2 separate regions of the Homo sapiens genome follow, and region 1 is linked to region 2. Evidence: fine-mapped expression QTL. A gene starts in region 2. The other region holds a variant in brackets. All regions are shown on one strand. Distances are between the middles of the regions. Region 1 has its middle 3.2 kb from the start of UMOD. Region 2 holds the start of IQCK-AS1 (IQCK antisense RNA 1).

Region 1 (2,912 bases), 590 kb before region 2:
CTGGAGACTAAAAATTGAAAGCATCTTATTTTGTTGTGCAATGATATATTGCCTGATTCTCCAATTAATATGTAAGCTCCACGAAAGTAGATATATCTATTGTTTTTTTTCTTGCCGTATTCCCTTTGCCTAGAACTCTGCTTGACACATAGTAGATGCTCAATAAATGCTCGTGGATCAATCAAATATTCCATTTTAGGTGAGAAATACATAATTTCATAGTCATCCCAAAAGGCAGAGGTGCTGACAGTGTTGTCCCCAGATCCAAACTGGAATCTGTATTCGTTCCCTATTTTTGATCTGACAAATTAACACTTAAGTGGCTTAAAACAACACAAACTTACTCTCTTAGAGTTCTGGAGGCTAGAAATTAGAAATCAATTCCACTGGACTAAATTCACGAGTTAGTCCCTTTTGGATGAATTCCCTGCTATGCCTTTTCTAGCTTCTGGGAGGCCCCTGCATTCCTTGGTTTATGGTTCTGTCCTAGAATCACTCTGACTTTTCATTTCATCCTTACACCTACTTCCTCTGACTCCTCCTGCATCACTTTTATAGGCACCACTGTGATTGCATCCAGCCTGCCCAGACAACCTCTCCATCTCAGGATCTGTAATCACACTGCACAGTCCCTTTTGCCATAAAAGGCAACACACACAGGTTTGGGGATTCAGAGGTGAACGTATTTGGGGGTCATTATTCAGCCTACCACAGATTTAACTCATGGATTTGTGTCATTCATTTCAGCCAGGCCTTCTCTTGAGAAAAGAAGGGCAGCATTCTTTTAGAAATTGAGGTCTCTAGAAACCACCTGGGTCTCTCCACTCCTCACCTGTCATGTAAGGCAAAGGCTATTTGTGCTTTCTCATACCTCCAGAGACAGCTCCCATGCCCCTCACCCTGAACCTGGCCTGTCCACAACCAGAGGAAGCAGGGAACAGCCTGCGGCTCTGGAACTCACCTGAGCCGAATTCCCCAACAGGAGCAGGTGTTAGTATTCAGGACACGGTGTAAGGCTCACCTGCCTCGGCCTTGAGGTCATGTGGCTGCCAGTTGAAGGAGGGTTACGGGGGGCTGCCTAGACTAGATCATGTGGCATAGAGCCCCTGACAGGCCACGAGCCAGAGAATGGGTGTGCCACCTCCAGGTCCCCCAGGCGTAACTGGAGCCTCAGGAGGTGTGTGCTCAGAGAGGTAGGTGGGACAGGTAATACCCCTCTTTTGGGGGATCTTCTCCCTTGGCTCATTTTTTGCCGCTTTCTGACACACACCAACCTCTCATTCTAAGTTTTTGTGTTCTGTTTGATCAATTTTTCAAAACTCTCCACCCTTTAGTTTCACTCTTTCCAAAACTACCTAAAACCACTTATCCTTCTAAGACCCTGTCATGGCTGAGCATGGAATGTTCTGTAACCCAAGGAATGCAGGTAAATCTGAGTGAGATTTGAGTTTTAGTCTGGATTTAACACTCGCTAGCTGTGTAATCTTGGGGGAGTTACTCCACCTCTCTGAACTTGTCTTCTTCCCTGTGACGTGGGTTG[T/C]TGTGTTTCATTGTTTGAGACAATGGAGGCAAAAGCACTGAGCACAGTGTCTGACCCAAGAGAAGTGCTCAGTGGGTGATTGTTCTCAGCATTATTAAGATCAAGTCTCCTACCCATGTTTGAAAGTTAAGAGAGAAAAGTGTTTCAGGCTGGTTGTGGTGGCTCATGTCTGTAATCCCAGCACTTTGGGAGGCCGAGGCAGGCAGATTACCTGAGGTCAGGAGTTCGAGACCAGCCTGGCCAATGTGTACAAAAAAAACACAAATTAGCCGGGCATGGTGGTATGCACCTGTAATCCCAGCTACTCGGGAGGCTGAGGATTCAAGGATTCAAGAGAATCACTTGAACTTGGGAGGTGGAGGTTGCAGTGAGCCAAGACTGAGCCACTGCACTCCAACCTGGGTGACAGAGCAAGACTCCATTAAAAAAAAAAAAAAGAAGAAGAAAAAGAAAGAAAGAAAGAAGAGTGTTTCAAGAGCGAAGTGCTGAGAGATTAAGGTTCGTTCAAAAACAAATATTTATTGTGCACTGTCCTAGAGGTAAGATAAAGAGAAAAATATTGATTGAATTTGGTAACATGGATGTCTTTGGTGAACTTGATGAGCAACAGAGCAGGAAATTATGGCCACTGACAACTTGTTATACTCACAGATCCCAAGAGAAGGGGACACACCACACTGGGCAGAGGGGCTGAAGGGAGAGGAAGAGCTGCTGGGAAGTACCAGGGTCGGTCAGGAAGCAAAGAGAGCAAGGGAAAAGGCAGGAAAGAGCCTTTATTGTAGTTTCTGCAGGAAGGAATGGGAGAGGCAAGGTAAGCAGATTTAGGATTGGCTTAGTTTGAATAATTTCAGAGACCTCTGGGCCATAGGAGTTGTCTCTAGTTGTCTGGTACCTGGTCCCTTGGGGTGATCTAAAGCAGCAAGTAGTGACCCTAAGTGTAAAAGCCCCAAAAAGGAGGCCAAGGGTTGGGGGTATGTGGTCTGGATTGATTGATTTGCAGTCGGAAAGGCACATTCACAGATAAGTCGTTTTTGATCTCTAGTAATTATTGAGCCCTGGGAGGGGCAGTCCCTCCATGATCAGTAAGGCCCCAAAATGTACAAGCACCAAATACAGAAACTAGAAAGCATGGTGATTACACTTATGAATAGATTCCAACCCAAACTCCCCATTTTCCTGCCCAAGTCTTTGTCAAGAAAACTCCAGAAGCCACCTGGGGTCACTGTCTTTAATCCTTTGAAGACACCCATAATAAGGTTTAGACAAGGCCTCATGAAAAAGGTATAGGATAAAAACGACTAGTTCAGAAAAAAAAAAGTAAATAAATGAAGAGATAACTTCCCTTTTCATCAAAGAATTGCAAAAATGAACA
Region 2 (2,912 bases):
CAAATGTTGCATTTCCCAAGACCACCCTGGCTTGCCACACCCCCCGTCCTGGGCATATAAAAGCCCGAGACCCTAGCGGGCAGACACCCAGGCAGCCAAACGTCGAGAGGAGCACTTCAGCGGAAAAAGATACAAGCAGCTGCTCACGGAGAGGATGTTGAGAGGAGCACACCAGCAGAAGAGCACACGGCAGGCACAGGCACCTGGCAGGACGAGGCTGAGTTTGGCCAGGGCAGTTAGTCGGAGGAAAGCTGTGGCCGCTGAGCAGCCCAACTCCATGGGAAAAACCATGGTGCCCTTCTGGCTCCTCCATCGGCTGAGAGCTACTTCCACTCAATAAAACTTTGCACTCATTCTCCAAGCCCACGTGTGATCTGATTTCTCTGGTACACAAAGGCAAGAACCTGGGATACAGAAATCCCTCTGTCCTCGCAACAAGGTAGAGGGTGAATTGAGCTGGTTAACACAAACCGCCTATAGATGGCAAACTAAGAGAGCACCTGGTAACATATGCCCACTGGGGCTTCAGCTGTAAATTCACCTATAGACACCGCCATCGGGTGGGAGCCCGACAACCTGCCTGCCTGTATGCTCCCCTAGAGGTTTGAGCAGCAGGGCACTGAAAAAGCGAGCCACATCCCCCTGTTGCATGCCCTGCGAGGGGGACAAGGTAATTTTTCCCGTTTCACCTTCTTGGCTCACTGCAACCTCTGCCTCCTGGATTCAAGCAGTTCTCCTGCCTCAGCCTCCCAAGTAGCTGAGATTACAGGCATGTGCCACCACACCTGGCAAATTTTTGTATTTTTAGCGGAGATGGGGTTTTACTGCATTGGCCAGGCTAGTCTCGAACTCCTGACCTCAAGTGACCTACCCACCTCGGCCTCCCAAAGTGCTGCTTTAAAGTTTTGAAACTACTGGACTAAATCAGAGGTTCTCAACCAGAGGCAGTTTTGCCTCATTCCCCTTGGGGACATACGCTAGTGTCTGGAGATATTCTTGATTGTCACAACTGTAGGAGGGTGCTACTGGCATCTAGTGAGTGGAGGCCAGAGATGCTGCAAAACATCCTACAATGCACAGGTCAGCTCCTTACAGCAAAGAATTATCCAGTCCTAAATGTCAATAGTGCCAAGGTTGAGACAACCTGGATTGGATATTTCCCGGCTCCCACCCTTGTTCTCCTTAAGAACTTTGGTTCCTGCTTGCTTCTCTGACTATTCCTACTTGAGACAAGAAGAATGCAGCATTTGAGTTCTTGCCTTGGACCAAATCTGGGCACCAACCAGCTTGGCCGCTGCCCCAGCTGGGCTGGCTCCAGGCCCACCAGGAAGGGCACGTGGATGGTCTCATGCTTCCCCACTTCCCTTTAATGCTTTGTTAACATTTGAATTACAACACTCACTACAGAAACTACAGCAAGTTGTAAACATGTCCCCCCACCCCAAGGGGCCAGGGCCATACTTTATTCATCTCTGTTTTTTCCACAGCACCAAGCTCTGTGCAGTTGAACTGGGTAGGTGTTCGATAGACATTCATTGCATCAAATAGATTAATATCACTTTAATTTTTATCATGCATCTGGGCATCTCTTTGAAAGGTCATGGATGTAGAGAATATAAATGCCCGTTAAAGCAAGAGCTCTTGTGTTTCTGTTCCTGTGGAGTGCAGCTGAAATGACCGCTACTGCTCCTTCACAGTATATTTACATGAGCTTCCTGTGGACATCAGCACCATTTAAAATTAAGGTATTTGTATAATAAATAAAGCTAAGAGGATTCTTATTAGAGAAGTTATCTTATTTTTAAGGTTATTTTTCATTGGTTATTACAAATGGAAAATTTTTTTTCAAGGCAAAGCAGCAACTTGGAGAATGATACTCAAAGAAGCTTGTCTTAGAAAAATATATGTAAATCAATAAATTTTGGGCTATACATTTCATAGCGGATAAAATCAGGCACAGGTTTGAAAGCTAAATAAGAAACAAGGTTTTCCTATGTTTCTCTCCTTTCAATGTGTAATCTTAGATTTAAAAAAAAACTGGTTAATATCTGGGGTTTTTAAAATTCTCAAAATTGCCAGAGTCAGCCAAGGGTCTATTCATCTTGGTATTCTCAAAGAGGGAAGATTTAAGCAAAATATGTGACAACTGAGAGCCGAGAGTCTAAATTTTTTTTTTGAGACAGAGTCTCACTCTGTCCCCGAGGCTGGAGTACAGTGGTGCGATCTCGGCTCACTGCAACCTCTACCACCCGGGTTCAAGCGATACTCCTGCCTCAGCCTCCTGAGTAGCTGGGATTACAGGCACGTGCCACCGTGCCCAGCTAATTTTTTTATTTTTAGTAGAGACGGGGTTTTGCCATGTTGGCCAGGCTGGTCTCGAACTCCTGACCTCAAGTGATCTGCCCACCTCGGCCTCCCAAAGTATTGGGATTACAGGCATAAGCCACCATGCCCGGCCAGATATAAACTGATTTTTTTTTTTTTTTTTTTTTGAGATGGAGTCTCACTCTGTCGCCCAGGCTGGAGTGCAGTGGAGCCATCTGGGCTCACTGCCAGCTCCGCCTCCAGGGTTCACGCCATTCTCCTGCCTCAGCCTCCCGAGTTGCTGGGACTACAGGCGCCCGCCACTATGCCTGGCTAATTTTTTGTATTTTTAGTAGAGACGGGGTTTCACTGTGTTAGCCAGGATGGTCTCGATCTCCTGACCTCGTGATCCGCCGGGCACGGTGGCTCACGCCTGTAATCCCAGCACTTTGGGAGGCTGAGGTGGGCGGATCACGAGGTCAGGAGATCGAGACCATCCCGGCCAACACGGTGAAACCCCGTCTCTAATAAAAATACAAAAAAAAAAAAAAAATTAGCCAGGTGTGGTGGCAGGCACCTGTAGTCCCAGCTACTCAGGAGGCTGAGAC

Evidence for each region.
Region 1: its variant is fine-mapped to the expression of IQCK-AS1 in prefrontal cortex (GTEx, PIP 0.97).

What each region holds. Positions count from the first base shown.
Region 1 is chr16:20,354,475-20,357,386 of GRCh38, reverse strand. It overlaps a transcript of UMOD not described here. Among named protein-coding and RNA genes, the nearest start is that of UMOD, 3.2 kb to the right of the region's middle. The variant T/C (reference allele first, on the strand shown) is at 1,541.
Region 2 is chr16:19,764,802-19,767,713 of GRCh38, reverse strand. IQCK-AS1 (IQCK antisense RNA 1) reads left to right here and starts at 1,644. Exons shown (of 4, transcript NR_188663.1): 1 at 1,644-1,745. All of the region lies in intron 6 of IQCK (IQ motif containing K), which reads right to left. RefSeq lists enhancers at 1-125, 126-626.